Linked DNA regions of Homo sapiens: region 2 is linked to region 1. The links come from fine-mapping of genetic effects on gene expression. Tissue or cell type: whole blood. Region 1 holds a variant in brackets; the other region holds the start of a gene. All regions are shown on one strand. Distances are from middle to middle.

The links. PIP is the estimated chance that this variant, and not a neighbour inherited with it, causes the effect.
Region 2: TPPP3 starts here. The variant in region 1 is fine-mapped to the expression of TPPP3 in whole blood (TOPMed, PIP 0.96).

Annotation. Positions count from the first base shown.
Region 1 is chr16:67,360,854-67,368,953 of GRCh38, forward strand. It overlaps LRRC36 (leucine rich repeat containing 36), which reads left to right. Exons shown (of 14, transcript NM_018296.6): 6 at 2,737-2,861; 7 at 4,451-4,502; 8 at 6,164-6,604. Among named protein-coding and RNA genes, the nearest start is that of TPPP3, 29 kb to the right of the region's middle. The variant ACTT/A (reference allele first, on the strand shown) is at 3,856.
Region 2 is chr16:67,389,326-67,397,425 of GRCh38, forward strand. It overlaps TPPP3 (tubulin polymerization promoting protein family member 3), which reads right to left and starts at 4,173. Exons shown (of 4, transcript NM_015964.4): 1 at 4,055-4,173; 2 at 1,599-1,792; 3 at 1,154-1,307; 4 at 484-1,037. The coding sequence starts at 1,786. The coding sequence ends at 849. ZDHHC1 (zDHHC palmitoyltransferase 1) reads right to left here. Exons shown (of 12, transcript NM_001323627.2): 9 at 6,159-6,241; 10 at 5,862-5,955; 11 at 5,677-5,737; 12 at 4,827-5,568. The coding sequence ends at 5,285. It also overlaps the pseudogene RNU1-123P.

The DNA of each region.
Region 1 (8,100 bases):
AAGGCCCAAATTCTTGCTACTATCTTCTTACATAATCCTGCTGGAAAAAAATTCCTTAAACAAAAGCAAAACTCTTGTTTTCATTCAAGTCCCCCCAGAAGACCTCAAATCCCAGAATTATACGTTAATAAATGTATTGATCAAGAGTGGAAAAACGTTTGTACAAATATGACAACCTAATAGAATCGTTCTCTCTTTCTTGTCATTCTTGTCTCACTCCTGTTACTCAGGCTGGAGTGCAGTGGCACAATCTTGGTTCATTGCAGTCTCGACTTCCCAAGTTAAGGGTTCCTCCCACCTCAGCCTCCCAAATAGCTGGGACTCATGCCACTAAGCCTGGCTCATTTTTGTATTTTCAATAGAGATGGGGGTCTCACTATGTTGCCCAGGCTGGTGTTGAACTCCTGGGCTCAAGTGATCCACCCACCTGGGCCTCCCAAAGTGTTGGGATTACAGACACGAGCCACTGTGCCTGGCCTTTGATAGAATTGCTGACAGGCTCTTCTTGATAACAGTTTCCAAAGTGGCCAGAACTGGGCTACAGTTTTTGTTATTTTTACTTTTTATTTTTAAAATAATTTTTCTAATCACAGTAAAAATATTGGTAAAAAAATAAAATTATAATACAGGAAAAAAAGTTAAAATTTATCACTTTTTTGTGAATATATGTATTAAACTAACATCAGAATTTGAAAGGTGAACTGCAAAATACTAATGAGATTTTCTCTTTTCTTTTGGAAATGGAGTCTCACTCTGTCACCCAGGCTGGAGTGCAATGGTGCGATCTCAGCTCACAGCAACCTCTGCTTCCCGGGTTCAAGCGATTCTCCTGCCTCAGCCTCTTGAGTAGCTGGGATTACAGGCGCCCACGCCTGGCTGATTTTTTTATTTTTAGTAGAGACGGAGTTTCACCATGTTGGCCACGCTGGTCTCGAACTCCTGACCTCAGGTGATCCACCCACCTTGGCCTCCCAAAGTGCTGAAATTATAGGTATGAGCCACCATGCCTGGCCCTAACAGTATTTTTTAATGAAAATGGAACACTATTTCCTTTACTTTTAAAAAATTATTTTTCTTTAACTATAAAACAAATCTTACCAGGCCTGGTGGCTCACGCGTGTAATCCCAACACTTTAGGAAGCCAAGGCTGGCAGATTGCTTGAGCCCAGGAGTTCTAAACCAGCCTGGGCAACATACGGATACCCTATTTCTATTAAAACTTTTTTTTAATGTAAAAATTAAAAAAAACAAAAACAAAAACAAATCTCACACAAAATAACATACAGAGTGTTCTAATACGTTTTGTTTTGTTTTGTTTTTTCTTCCCGAGAAAGAGTCTTGCTCTGTCGCCCAGACTGGAGTGCTGTGGCGCGATCTCGGCTCACTGCAACCTCTACCTCCTGGGTTCAAGCAGTTCTCCTGCCTCAGCCTAGCGAGCAGCTGGGATTACAGGTGTGCACCATAACGCCCAGCTAATTTTTGTATTTTTAGTAGAGACGGGATTTCACCAGGCTGGCCAGGCTGGTCTCAAACTCCTGACCTCATCATCCGCCCGCCTCAGCCTCCCAAAGTGCTGGGACTACAAATGTGAGTCACCGTGCCTGGCCAGAAGTTTGAATATATATACAGAGCCTAAAGTACTACTAATAAATATATTTAAGCTCATGGTGAATATTTCCAGCCCCATCACTAATTTAATCAATTTACAAGGATTTTATAAATAGCAGGGGATGATACTTCCACATTCTCTGTGTGGTAACCAAAAAACAAGATAAAACAAGAATCTCTCTAATAGCATTAGTTACAATTGAATAAAACAAAATAAACTGTAAAAAATACATTGGGAGACCTAAGGATTTAGCATTCTTCTCCATGAAATAGGTCCTGACTGGTTTCTCTCTCTTTTTTTTGTTTTTGTTGTTGTTGTTGTTGTTGTTTTATTGAGATAGAGTCTCACTGTGTCGCCCAGGCTGGAGTGCAGTGGCACAGTCGTGGCTCACTGCAACCTCCACCTCCCTGGTTCAAGCAATTCTCCTGCCTTAGCCTCCTGAGTAGCTGGGATTATAGGCGCGCGCCACCACTCCCGGCCCGGCTAATTTTTGTATTTTTAGTAGAGACAGAGTTTCACCATGATGGTCAGGCTGGTCTCGAACTCCTAACCTCAAGTGATCTGCCCACCTCAGCCTCCCAAAGTGCTGGGATTACAGGCGTGAGCCACCACGCCCAGCTTAGTTTTCTCTTTTTACAAAAGAGAGAAAGCAAGGCAGAAAAAGGCTAGTTTGAAATGGTCAATCAGTGCTGACTGCTGATTAGTACCCTGGAGATGTATAATGCCAGGAGTCTATTCCCAGCATCTCCCCCTGTAGTTGGAGATTATGGAATTGGTATCACAGTTAATTATTTATTCGCTTAGGAAATGTGCAAAATATTTGCCTTCCACTCAGTTTCTGTTGAGCACTTCATAAATTATGAAGCCATTTCATATCCATTATCCTGTTTTAACCTGGCTCAACCCTAACAGATAGGCAGTTTAGATTTTATCATCTCTGTTTTCCAAACGAAGTGAGAGAAGTAGAGAGGTTAAGTGATTTGCTCAAATTCATGTGGTCTCCAAGTGGTGGCACCAGAACTAGCACTCAATCTTGTGACTTTCCTTTTAGTATCTATCCATTAGACATGCTGCCTTTGAAGTCTGGTCAGTGAGTGCTTTATTGTTTGCTTTTTCTTTTAACACAGACTCAAACAAAGGACTTTTTATTCCCTTCCCCAACCGGGAAATAAAGGATTCCCTAAGTACTTCTGCAACTCAGGGCAATGGTACACGTGATCAGAAATTAGACACCTTCCCACTGGGGACACAGGTAATGTATTCACTCTCCTGCTGATCTGTTGACTAGTCAATGATTAATACTGATAATTCAGTGGGCTCTCAATTATTTATGAAGGTCTCAGAGGACTTGTTTGATGAAGGCATTTTAGACCCTTTTAAAGGAAAGGGCAGGACAGAATGCAGAGTACCTTCTCCATTAATTTCAATCTCCCATTTCCCTCTCTCTCACACTAACCTGTTATCTAATGTCATATATTTATACATATAACTTTAGCATATCTATGAAAGGCATTTTGGTCCTCAAACAAGAATGCAACTGTTACAGTTTTTGGCTGGTTTTAAATTTTCTCCCCTCTATCCAATATCTCCATCTCCTGTTGCCTTGCTTCTTACATTTTCTACCTACACCCTTTAATACTGAGTCTTACATTTTAGGTATGACTTTCCCAAAGCTGCCTCTGCAGTATAACAGAAAAAGTAAAGTTTAAGGGGTAAAGATGGCATGGAAGTTGTGGGCAATGGGAAGATAGAGATCATGCAAGATGGGGGAGGAGTGAAAAATAAGGTTTTAGTGAAAAAATTGGTGACAGAAGGGATGCAACCATTATGTAAGACTTGTTTGTGTGAGTGAATATGATACAAGGAGCAGAACTGACTACTTTATATTCACCTTCTCCCTTTCTGTGCCTTTTCTTTGATACATTTATGAGCAATAAAATTGTAGAAAATAGCCAGGAGGAGAAAGAAAAGCAGCAAAGGCTCTGATTAATCCATAATTTGGACAATCAAGACTGAATTAGTAAAAAGTTAGTACTATTCTTTTCAGTTTGGGTATAGACTACCTTCATCTTTTAAAAAGATAAGCATTTAATCAGTTTCTTTGTTTTTGGAGATTATACTTGGGTGACTTAGAAACAATCTCAGTTACCATTTTTTAAAACCATATTGACTTAAGGAAATGGAGACAAAGAGTATTGCAATCTCCAGTTAAATAGCACTTCTTAGATAAAAAAGCAAACAAAAAA[ACTT/A]CTCTGAAATTACTTCTTGAAGTGAGAAAAAAGGAAATTGAATAGTTTGCTGTATCTTTTTAGTTTAAGAAATAAGGAAGTGGGATTTCTTTCTCTCCATGACTACCAAAAAGACACTGAATACTTTAAGATAATTTTTTTAAAAGCAAACCCTAGATGGCTTTCTGTTTTCCTTCAGTCCTTGCCTAGTTATGCCTCAGATTAATTTTCAGCCTATTAAAACCCCCTTAGCTATGGTGGTTGATAGCTTTATCAGCTGGTAAAATAAGCATGAGAGTCCTTTAAACAGAAAAAGCAAAGCTGGAAAGTGGCCCTCATCTACCTTCTATGAGCTATCTAAGGCAGAGAAAGTACAGTCATTGTTTGCTATGTCCTTTACTTCCTAAGGATATTCAAGCAACTCTGGAATCTCCTTGTATTGTGACTGTTTTAAAATAGACTTAAACTGGACCTTTGCTTAAAGGTCTGTTTCCCTAGCTTGCAAGGATAGTCTTTCCCATTAATAGGAAGGTATTCTGAACCCCTAGTCTAATAAGCTCACATTTGAACGCGCATGGACTTCCTTCTACCTAAACTTTCGAACTTTTTTTAGACACAGGAAGTAGCAAGAAGGGAGATGCCAAGTGACAATCACCAGGAAGATGGTAAATATTTTGCTCACTGAGTATTTTTCCCCCACACTAATCAGAGAAGTCTGGATGTGATGGGATTTGGGAGATGAAGATGTCTCAATATGGGGGCCCTATTTAGTCAACTAATTTCTGCTTTTGTGAGGGACTGTCCTGGATGATTAGTAACCTGTGAGACTTTTCTGCTTAAAGAGTGCATATTCTGACCTCCTTTGTTCTTGATTTTTTTTGCGTTGGATGACTATTCTTTTTGTTACCTTTCTTGCCTTCTTTTGTATTTATTATTTTTTATTCATCCATTTGTTTCTCTCTACTGGTTTATAAGTTATATACATTTTCTATACTTTTAGTATTATTCCCCAAATGATAATATGTATCCTTAACTTACATAATTTTTAAATTGTTAATACCTTAAGTCTTCTTTTGGATAATTCAAAAACCGTACAGTACTTTATTTCATTTACTCTTTCCTGACTTATATGTTGTTATTATGAATTTTAATTCTCTATATTTTTAAAGACTTCACAAGATATTATTTTTTATATAGTCAGTGTAGATTTAAATCTATCCATTAATTTACTACTGTTTGTTCACTTCCTTTTTCTTCCCAGGCTTCCCTTCTGATATCATTTTCCTTTGCCTTACAGTGGCACATACTTTAATGTAGGTCTATTAGTGATGAGCTCTTTCAGCTTTTCTTTGTGTGATAATGCCTCTATTTCACTATCATTCTTGAAGGGTATTTTAGATGGGTGTAGATTTCTAGGCAGTTCGTTCTCTCTCTCTCTTCCCACTTCCTTCTCTCTTTTTTTTTAATTTTTTTTATTTTTGAGACAAGTTCTCAATCTGTTGCCCAGGCTGGAGTACAGTACAGTGGCACAATCAGAGCTCATAATAACCTCAAACTTCTGGGCTCAAGCAATCCTCCCACCTCAGCCTCCCAAGTAGTTAGGACTACCACCACACCTGGCTAATTAAAAAAATTTTTTTCGGACCAGGCACAGTGGCTCATGCCTGTAATCCCAGCATTTTGGGAGTCCGAGGCAGGTGGATCACCTGAGGTCAGGAGTTTGAGACCAGCATGGCCAACATGGTGAAACTCCATCTCTACAAAAAATACAAAAATTAGCCGGGCATGGTGGTGCTTGCCTATAATCTCAGCACTTTGGGAGGCCGAGGCGGGTGGATCACTTGAGGTCAGGAGTTGGAGACCAGCCTGGCCAACACGGTGAAACCCCATCTCTACTAAAAATACAAAAGCTAGCTGGGCATGGTGGCATGTGCCTGTAATCCCAGTTATTCGGGAGGCTGAGGTACGAGAATCGCTTCCCTCTGGGAAGCGAAGGTTGCACTGAGCTGAGATTGCGCCACTGCACTCCAGCCTGGGCGACAGAGTGAGACCCTGTCTCAAAAAAAAAAAAGAAACAGAATTTGTCTCCAGAATGTTATAGATTCTTTACTGTTTACACAAAAGTCCCACATTTTATTGGTGGTGGTGGTGTTCCATGTGGAAGTCCTTTCATCACTTTATGCTACCATTGATCAGAATTATAAACCACCTCTTCCTGAGAGGTGTTTCTGGCAGACAGAGAATATGTTCAGTGAACAGAGGTACTCCCAGCTAGGCCACAAAGAATTCTTATCATGTTTTGTTTTTTTGCCTTGGTGGTGTTTAGAGTTCAGACACTACTCGCCTCGTCAGTCCACAGTCCGATCCCCAGAGAAGATGACTAGAGAAGGGTACCAAGTATCTTTTTTGGACAATAAGTCTTCAGGTTCTTCTCCAGAAAAGGAATTGATACCAAAACCTGATACTTTTCATCTTACCCATGATGCCTCATTGAGTAAATGCCTGGATGTGGGTGATTCTAGCCAGATCCATCCCTATCAGTTACCTTCAGATGTTGGTCTGGAAAATTATGACAGTTGTTATTCTCAAACTCTATCCCTGCATGGAAGTCTTGGTAAAAGGCCTCAGAGAAGCAAGAACTATCAAGAGTATAGCATAAAGCCTTCAAATGACATAAAGACCACCGCTTCACATTCCTGTGGAGACTTATTAACTTCTCTGTCAAACCCTGACTCCAGCACTGGAAGGCTTTTGAAGCTTAGTTCAGGTAACAGCTTCCTGTCAGTTTACAGGTCTTCTTCATAGGCATGAAGATAGAAGATATAAGTGAAAATTTTGGAATTAACCCTTCTGAAATTGTATTAGCATTTCTTAAGTTGTATTTTAGGGTCACCAGTGGTTCTTGGAACCTCGAGAAATCTGTAGGGTATGAGTTTAACATGATATATATATTAGGGAAAATTTGTAGGAAAGTGAGCATTGCAGCTACTTGCTATTTTAGTTAAGCAGCATCCCAGGACATCTAGTCTTTACTCACAGTCACTTCTATTCTGACTTACTTTCAGAAGAAGTTAGTTTCAGGCTGGGCACGGTGGCTCATGCCTGTAATCCCAGCACTTTGGGAGGCTGAGCCGGGTGGATCACGAGGTCAGGAGTTCGACACCAGCCTGGCCAACATGGTGAAACCCCGTCTCTACCAAAAATACACACACACAAAATAGCTGAGCATGGTGGCATGCGCCTGTAATCCCAGCTACTCAGGAGGCTGAGAGGCAGGAGAATTGCTTGAACCTGGGAGGCAGAGGTTGCAGTAAGCCAAGATCGGGCCACTGCACTCCATGGGCAACAGAGCAAGACTCCATCTTGAAAACAAAAACAGAAGTTAGTTTCAGAGTTAGTGACAGAGATCACTCTTCTGTTACTTATTTATTCAACCAAACTCATTGAACACCTACAGTGTCCCAGACACTGTTCTAGCTCTGGAGATAAAGTAGCAACCAAAATAAAGTTCCATGTATATTTTACCATAATAAGAAGACAGTCCCTACTTTCATAGAGCTTACATTCTCATGGGGTAAGACACATGATAAACATTTTAGCATGCAAATATATGTCAGGTTATGGTAAATGCTGTGAAAAAATTATATAAGGGCATAGAGCGTGATAAGGAGGAGGCGATGCTTTAGATAGAATGGTCCAGAAAGCTTCTCTGATGAGGCACCATAAAAGTAGAGACTTGAATGAAGTGGGAGTATAAGCCATGTGGGTCTGGGAGGAGAACTTTCTAGACAGTGGGAATAAATGCAAAAGTCCTGAGGCTGGAACATACTTTTCATGTACAAGGAACCTCAGGGAGGCCAGTGCGGCCTCAGCAAAGAAAGTAGAGTGTATAGATGAAGTAAGAAAGATGCCAGACTTTTTTCTGGGTGAGATCAGAAGGAGTTGGAGAGTTTGTAGCAAGGGAGTGATGTGATCTCACTTAAGAATTACTGTGAATGTTGGGCTGAGAATAGACTATGGGGAGGAGGGTAGAAATTTTTTTAAAATGCTTTGGAGAGATTGGAATCAGCGTAACAGATGATGATGGCTTGGGCTAGACAGATAGCGGTGGAGGTGGTGAGAAGTAGTCAGATTCTGAATATGTTCTGAAGATGACACTCCATGGTTTGCTGATGGATCCAGGATAAAGTGTGGGAGAAAGAGGGTCAATGGTAATTCTGTGGTTTTGAGTCTGAATAACTAGAAGAACAGAGCTTTCATTTA
Region 2 (8,100 bases), 28 kb after region 1:
CCGCGCCCGGCCTGGATGAGCTACTCTCTAAGGTTCTGCCTGGCCCTGCGTTTTCTGTATTCTGAGCCAGAACCCAAAATGACTTGCCTCGGTAGCCCCTGTTCGCAGACTGAAAGCTGATGCCTGGCTCTGGGGCCTCTGCCAATGCTTGGCCCAGGCTGAGTCGGCTGTTTCATCCCTCCTACTGCTGTGAAAGTGGAGAGGGGGCCAACTCTCCAAACCCAAGGCACTGGTCACAGGAAGGCAAGCTTTGATGTCAGGACTCCCGTCAGGCCCAGCTAAAAGGCTTTGGACTTCCCCAGGAGTCTCCTCAGACAGAATGGCTCTGTGCTAACAGAAGGGGACTCATGAGTGCCTTTTTCTGGGCAAGGCTGCCAGGGGAAGGGGAGTGATTAGCAGTGTGTGGCATGCAGCGGGGTGATGACACTGAGGGGGTCACTGGAGTGTGAATGTCATTCCCCCATCATCGTCAACCAGGCCATATTGGTACAAAAGGTGTCTTTATTGAGGTCTGGGTTAAAATTAGGCACTTGGCCAGAGCAGCAGCTTAAATATGAGGCAAGCAGTCAGGGGTTAGCCATGCCTGGGGCTGGGTTGGGGTCATGAGGCTACAGGCACAGACTGTCCCCAGGTGGACAGAAGTTGGAGCAGGAAGAGGAGGAGGAAGGGGCCGCAGAGCAGCCTGGGTCAGAGGCCTGGTGGGCCAGCCCAGTGGGACTAGGCAGGAAGCTCTGGGTGGCAGGTCCAGCAGGGAGGGGACCAGGATCTCTTGCTCCACGTGCCCCTTAGACCCAGGCCTGAGCCTCTGGCAGGGGCAGCCGCACTTGGCAGGGCGGTCTTCCCAAGCCTCACTTCTTCACCTTGGCATCGTAGGTGCCTGCATTCTTGTAGGCGCTCACGTAGCCACTGTCGTCCAGGATGTCCTGCCGTCCCGCAATGCCCTTGCCCTTGCCGCTCTCATCGAAGCGCTCCTTGTGGGAGCCCGTGTATCTGCTGGTGTCCGTCAGCCGGTCTACAGCACCCCCTGTTTTTGCTTTCTGTTTGGACAGAGTTTCCCCAGGGGCACCTGATGAGGGAGCCCAGCCCTTCCCACCCACAGCCACGATTCCCCACACCCCATTCCGTGGCCACCCGAGACCAGCAGGGCACTTACAGTGACGCCCACATTGGCTGGCTCTTTGCCTGCCACCAGCTGGCAGATGGCATCGAAGGCCTCCTCCTTGCTCTTCCCCTTGAATCTCTTGGTCGCCAGCTCTTCCAGGGCCTTCTTGAACTCCTCATAGTTGATGACCCGAGCAGACTTCCCCCTGACAGGCATGTGGGCACCATGAGGGTTCCCCTTTCTTTTTTCTCCCCCAGGGGAAAGCTCAAACACATTTGCTGCCACCACAAATTATGCAATTGCGTTTCTTTCCCACGTTTGGGGAAGTCGCAGGGGTCAGCAACTCTGGAGGGCAATAGATATAAGGTTTGCCCTGGAAGAACGACCTTCGTGATCATGGTGTTTCCCTGACCCCTTCTTGATGTCCTCCCTGGTTCCAGCCCCCCAGTTCCCCACCTCCTGGGAACATGAGAAGCAGGGGCTGCTTAGGGCTCACTTGACTTTGGAGAAGACGATGTCCACATCGGTCCCTGTCACGGACTTTCCGTCAGCCACCTTGCAGTCCTTGCACAGCTTGGCCCAGTTCTTGCCATTCATCTCTTGCCCACTGGCCTTGGGGTCACCATGGATGGCAAACTTGCGGAAGCTCTCCTCCAGCCCAGCCATGTCTGTGCTCGCTGCCATGCCACCCTATAGAGACCCACCTGGGTCATCTCCCAGCCAATCTGCCCTTCCCCTCCCCCAAGCCCAGAACATCCCAGCCTCTACCTCAAACCTGCAAGACCTGGGCAGGTTCTGCTACAGAGTTGGTGCTGGAGCTGCCTGGGGAGAGGGGCCCGTCACTGTCGCCCTGGGCCACAGAGCCCCAAGGAAGAGCCCCGGGAGGCACGGTCTTGTCACTAATGCCAGCCCTGGCTCTCAGCAGGGTTCAGCAGATGAAATAATGATGCCCACAGGGAACAGAGTGGCACTGTCCAGAAAGACTGTTAGGGCAGCAGCTGGGGCCCTGGCTTTGTCTGGCCCTGGCACAAGGCCTTGCTTGGGTGGAAGTGAGGGTGGCAGAGCAGGCCCCCTCCCTGGAAGCTCCATGCCAAGCTGGCTTGGGGCCAGGCCAGGCTGCTGGTCGGGCAGGCATTCAGTGAGGACAGCATCTCTGTAAGGGTCATGAGGACCCAGCAAGAGCCAGTCTGGGCACGGGTGCATGCCCTGGGCAGGGGTGCAGCTGGTCCAGCAAGGCCTTGTTACTATTTGCTGTTAAACAAAAACATGAGGGGAGCTTGGGGCTGGCCTGGCCACAGTTTGTGAAGCCTGGAGACGGTTGCTAAGGGAGGGTGGTGCTGCTTGGAGAATGTTGCTAAGGGCAGGATGGTGTCAGGGCAGCTCAGGGAGAAGCTCCCAGTGCTGAGGGGCTGGGCTGGGCTGGGAAGCTGGGGCCCACGGGTGGGGCACGCCAGCACTCCCTGCGCCTAGGGCATAACCGTGGCTTCCTGGCCCCTTGCCACCGACTGGTGCTGTAACCTCCCACTGTGGAGTTTTGGGGGAGCAGGAGGTTGGGGGCTAGTAGCGTGGGGGCTGTAGAGTTACGAACCCCAAGAGTCGTGCTGGCAAGTGGGGCTGTGGCTGAAACACACTTCATCATGTCTACACCTCAGACCTCCCCTGGCCACGCCCTGAACTTGGCCACACCAGCCCACATTCCCAGCGACCCTGTGCACTCAGCCCTGGCCTGCCACCCCCTGGGCCTTGTACCCCTGGCCATACCTTCAGCCCTCCATCCTCCATCTTCACACCCACAGCCACAGCCCTCGGCCACCAGCCCCCACATATATACTAACAAGCCTGCGCCAACCCCAGTAATACCCACAGTCCAGCACTAAAGTGCCCCCCACACCCACAGCCCTCCGCTGCAGACCCCTGGCCACACCCTGAGCCTACACAGCAGCCTTCTCCATCCCCACACCCGCAGCCCTGGGGCTGAGGCCCCTGGCCACAAACCTGCATCCCTTCCTGAGACCCCTGACCATAGCCTCAGCCACTCACCCCCTCCAATACCCGCAGCCCTTTATCAAGGCGCCCTGACCCTCAGCACCCCTTTGTCCACACACCCTCAGCCCTCTGGCCACACCCTCAGCCTGCACTGAAGGCCCCAGTCCACATCCACACACTAACATTATAAGACTCCCAGGTACTATGCGGAGATCCCCTGCGTAGAGACCTCCCCACCACATCCCCCTCCTCCACTGCCACCTCCTGACCACACCCTCGGTCTCAGCAACCATCTTCTAGCTCTGCCTTTTACACTAGGGCTTCCAGTGACCACGGCCTGGGCTCTGCCCGGCTGCCCCATCTTCCACCAAAAACTCCTCGCCAGTGACCACACTCCCATCCCTAAGTGGCAGTTTCTGGGACTGTGAGCACCGGTGGTTCCTACGTTACAGGGACCATAACCCCAGTCCACGCTGCACTCCCCTTCCCTTTCCCTGGGTGCAACCTCCCACCAGGGACCCCAAGACCCGCACTTGGTTCACCAAGGGTAACGTCCAGGGGAGCTTGGATGCCACAGGGTGCTTGGCCCAAGCACTGGGCGGATCCTGCGTGCAGTGCTCACTCCTGTCCGTGGAAAGATGGATTCTTGGTCATCTCAGCGCGGTCAGGTGGCGCTGGGTTGCAGGCCGCAGCCCCATGGGTCTGCAGGCCATGGATGGAGTGGCCACACCCGTGAACTGGAGCCACCCGTCCCGCTCCCACTGGGACAGCTGGAGTCATCAATCAGCCGGACCAGGAGGTGGGGGCTGCGAGGTGGAATGCTTGGGGCCAGGGCAGGGCCGCTCAGCTGGCTCCTCGGCTGGGACCGCCGGAGGTTGGGACCCTTTCCAGGCTGCTCCCCCCAACCCTCATCGTGCAGGATACTGATTGGGGTGGCGGGCATCTGGGTCTCCTATGGGCTTCTACCTCGCGGCTGCTCCTGAAGTGTGCGTTCGGAAGGACAGAACGACGCAGGAATGGACCGATGGACGCGGGAGACCAGGCGGCTCCGCAGCTCCGCTCCCTGCCGGCTCCCGGGTGGGACTGCAGCCCAGGCGGCTCCGCCGTATTATCCCCTGTTTCTCGGTCTCCATAGAGACGGCGAGTCCCACCCCCGAGGCTGTCTCGGCGGGAGAGTGACCAAGGTCACGCCGGCCCCGCCCACGAGGCCCCGCCCTCCCCGAGACTCTCCGGGAGCCGCATCCCGCCCCTCCCCCGCAACTCCGCGGTCCTCGCGACGGCGAGACCAGCGCTCTGCAGTTCGGGGCGTCTTCGGACGGCCCCCTGAGGAAACAGCCTCCCATCCTGGGATGTGCCTAAAGCTCTAAGCGGCCCCAATCTCCAGAAGAGATCCAGCTCCCCAGAGAGTCAACCAGAGGCCACTGGGGAGCTGCGCGGGGCATTGGTGGGGCTTGGGGAATCGGGAAGGAGCTCTCCCTCAGTGACAGGGGTATACGGTTGACTCAAGAGCACTGCCATCCACTGAACGGATGGCACCCCCAGGCCACAACTCCCGTGCTCTCTTGGGTAGGATTCAGAGCCTGGAGCAGTGGGGAAGAAGGGAGGGGACTCCCTACGAGCGAATCGCGCTCGCCCAGCCCCAGGATGCTGGCATTCGACGGCAGCCCTGCTGCCGGGGAAAAGCTGCGGGACCTCCTGGCTCGGCCCCCTCCTTTCGCCGCCACCTCCCCACGGCCTCGCAGCCTCAGCGCCCACTGCTGCTTTCGGAGCCCAAAGCCTGCTTTCTCTCGGCCTCCCAGTGCAAAGCCCATCTTTAAGAAAAATAACCTCCTCCAGGCCGCCTTCTAAGGCCTTTCCTAACCACGAGCCGCACGTGAGCACCTCCACAGGGCAGCCTGGGTGGCTACCTACTATACAGGGACCTCCTCCCCGCCCCCGGTCCACTGGCCAGGGTCGGGCTTCTGGATGGCCCGTGGCCCCTGCCATTAAGAAAGTAAGCGCGACGTCCGCAAAAGCATAAAAAAGTTTATTGGAGCATCACAGCCGGTGGGGCGGGTATTGCTGAGTCGTGGGGGAGGGAGGCCGATCCCGCCGGCCGTAGGGGCCCCTAAAGTGCACTCGGTGCGGCAAGGATGGGGTGTTGCATAGAGAGTCAGGCCGGCCGCTCTAACTCGGCCCTCCGGCCTCTCGGCCCAGCTAAGCCAGACCAGCCTCCCGGCCGCCCGGCGCCCTGGGCTCGCCGCTGCTCGGGCTCACGAAAACGGCGGGCGCACGCGCCTGCCGCGCCAGCGTGGGCTGTCGGCCCCGGCCCCGCGGGGCGGCCAGAGCGGCGCTGCCCAGGCGCGTCTGCGCCACTGGAATCTCGTCCACGGACTCTGCCGACGCCGAGTGGTAGGCGCCGGCAGGGCCAGCGGCGTGCACAGGGCTGGCGTCCGCGGAATCCGTCGACGAGCTGGAGCGGCGGCTGGGGGCCCTAGGCCCTGCGCAAGGGAAGGGAACATGAGCCCAGTGGCTGCGGCTCGCTTGTGGCTCTGCCTTCCCCTCCCTCGAGTTCCCAGAGCAGGACCCGGACAGGGAGAGGCGCTCACCCGACGCCGGATCCGAGGTCTCAGACGTTCGCACTTTATACACGCGCCTCTTCCTCTTTTTCTGCAGAGACACGGGGGAGCCTGAGGGCCCCACATCGCCAAAAGAAGCAGAGGCGAGCGCCAGGGTAGAGGCTTCTTTCTATCCCACTCCACCTGGACCGGAGGCCCAGCACAGTCCCTCCTACCTGGGGTCGGATCCGGGGAGGCAGGGCGAGAGTGTCTGGGGAAGAGGGTGGTGGAGGTTCCGCTTGGCCACGGGTGGCAAGAAACTGGGAGGGACTGAGGGGGAAGCAGGAGGGTAAGCCTGGGGCCTGTTCCCCAAATCCCTCCCCACTGGAGGTGCTGAGAGAAGCTTCCCTTCCTGTTAGCTCAGAGAAGGGCCTGACCCATGCCCCGACCTTAGCCTACCCCCTTCTCCTGCCTCGATGGCCCTGCCATGCTAACTGGAGATGCCCAGTGGCACATGCCCAGGTTGCACTCACTTGGCATTCACTGCTGCTGGCCCGGCCTGGCCAGGGGGCTCTGGGCGCATATGTCTGAAGGTCCGCATGTAGAACTCCATCTCCTGGGGAAGGTGGAAGTCAAGGAGGCTGGGAGGCCAGGTGTGGCTCCCGAGCCTGCTGAGCCCTAAGCCCACGCAGTCCTGCCCTCATTGGCCTCTGTGGGATATCTCAGGCCTCATGCCAGGCTCCCAGCCATGCTGGGAAAACCCCATCTGTAGGGTAAGGCTTAAAACACCCATTTCTGGCCCTTGCCCCATCCCCAGGTCCTTACCTCATCTATTCAGCCTCTGCCTCCTGCAGGAAGGCTCCCAGCCCCCATGGGTCTATAGGCCCAGTTTAGAGAGGCTCAGCCAGGGAGTGGTGGGAAGCTCAGAGCTGCCCGCACCTGCTCCTGGTGTCCCCAGGGATCCAGCCTCTGAACCAATTGTTTTCCCCTGGCTGAGAAACAGGCCTGAGTGTGCATCCACCAGCTCCCGCAGAGCTGAGTCCTGGGCACACCCCTCGCCCTCACAGAGGACCAGCCACGATCCAGGCTGCCGAGAAGGGGCTGCGTAAATGCACATGCGGTGGTCTCCCTGCCACTACACCAAAAGGGAAGGTAGCAGGTGGTGGAACAAACAGAGCCGCAGCCCCACTGAGCACCAGGCTTATGGGCAAGCCCTGATCTTCACAGCAACCCTGAGGGTGCAGACGCGACCCCTGAGAGCAAAGGGGCCTTGAGGCCAGGGGGTTGCAGGAGTGGCCTAGTCCTGCACCCCCGCCCGCAGGACTCGCCCCAGCTTTGCCCAGAAGGACTCCAGGTGAGGAAACAAAAGCCTGGGGAAAGCAGGCCCGGGAAGGGCGTGGTGCGAGATGGGGGCGGGTCCCGGGCGGGGTGGGAGCCGGGAGGGGTTGCCGGGAGCACCCGGACAGCTGTCGCCAGTTCAGCAGCCGTTTCCATGGAGACGGAGGCGTCCTGACTAATGCAGAGAGGACACTGTAACAGCAAGGCCGTCTCTAAAACAAGCCTATGTTTGGGGGCAACGGCTCCAGAGAGGGGCCCCTCCCGCATTCCTGCTGGGGTGGGGGTGGGTGGCTGCCTGCAGGGCCCTGACAGATCTGGGGGAGGAGCCCAGCCAGCGGCCCCGCCCAACCTCTGCCCTGGCTGCTGCTCTGGAGAGGGGTGTGGGGGCGCCAGCCTGGGCCGAGGAGCGCGGGGTCAGGGGTCAGAGGCCAGTCACAGGGACTGGAAACCTCAAGATCACTCTCCCCCACACCTCTTTTCTGCCCCAGTGTGGACTCAGTGACCCTCTAGGGCCAGCAGAGGGGCAAAGCCCACTGGGGGGCCCTGGGCTCCAGAGGGGGGAGCAGAGGAGGGGCCAGCAGTAGAGGAGGTCTCAGAAGCTGAGGGGCCTGGATGGGAAAGGCGCCAGGCCCTAGCCAGCTCAAGAAGTCTGAAAGCGTCCCCAGTGAGTCCCCACTCAGAGCCCTGTCCTCTCTCGCCATGGCTGTCCAGAGGATACTGTCTCAGAGACCTTCAAAACCGTGTACATTCCTGAATGGTACTGGGCCCTCAGCCTCAGCTCTCTGCTTTGTAAAAGAGGACAAGAACACCACTCCTGTCCCCCGGGTTTGCCTCCCTCAAGTCACTGCAGATGGACAGAACAGAAATTAAATGTCTTCGCTGTGGCCACATTTGGCCCCAAAGCCTTGGCAGCGCAGGGCCAAAGAGCCCGCCCTGCTTCAGTGGGTGCTGCCTATGAGGCTTGAGAAAGTCTCCTGCCTACTTCTCTGGGCCTCCGTCTCCTCTTGATGTGGGGCTGGAAACAGTACCCTCTCCCCAGCACAGCTGCCACCATCAGAGCCCAGCACTGGGGCAGGTATACGGTGGTGTAACAGTGGAGTCGCCACCCACAGCCAGCATGCCCCAGGCCCAGGCCTG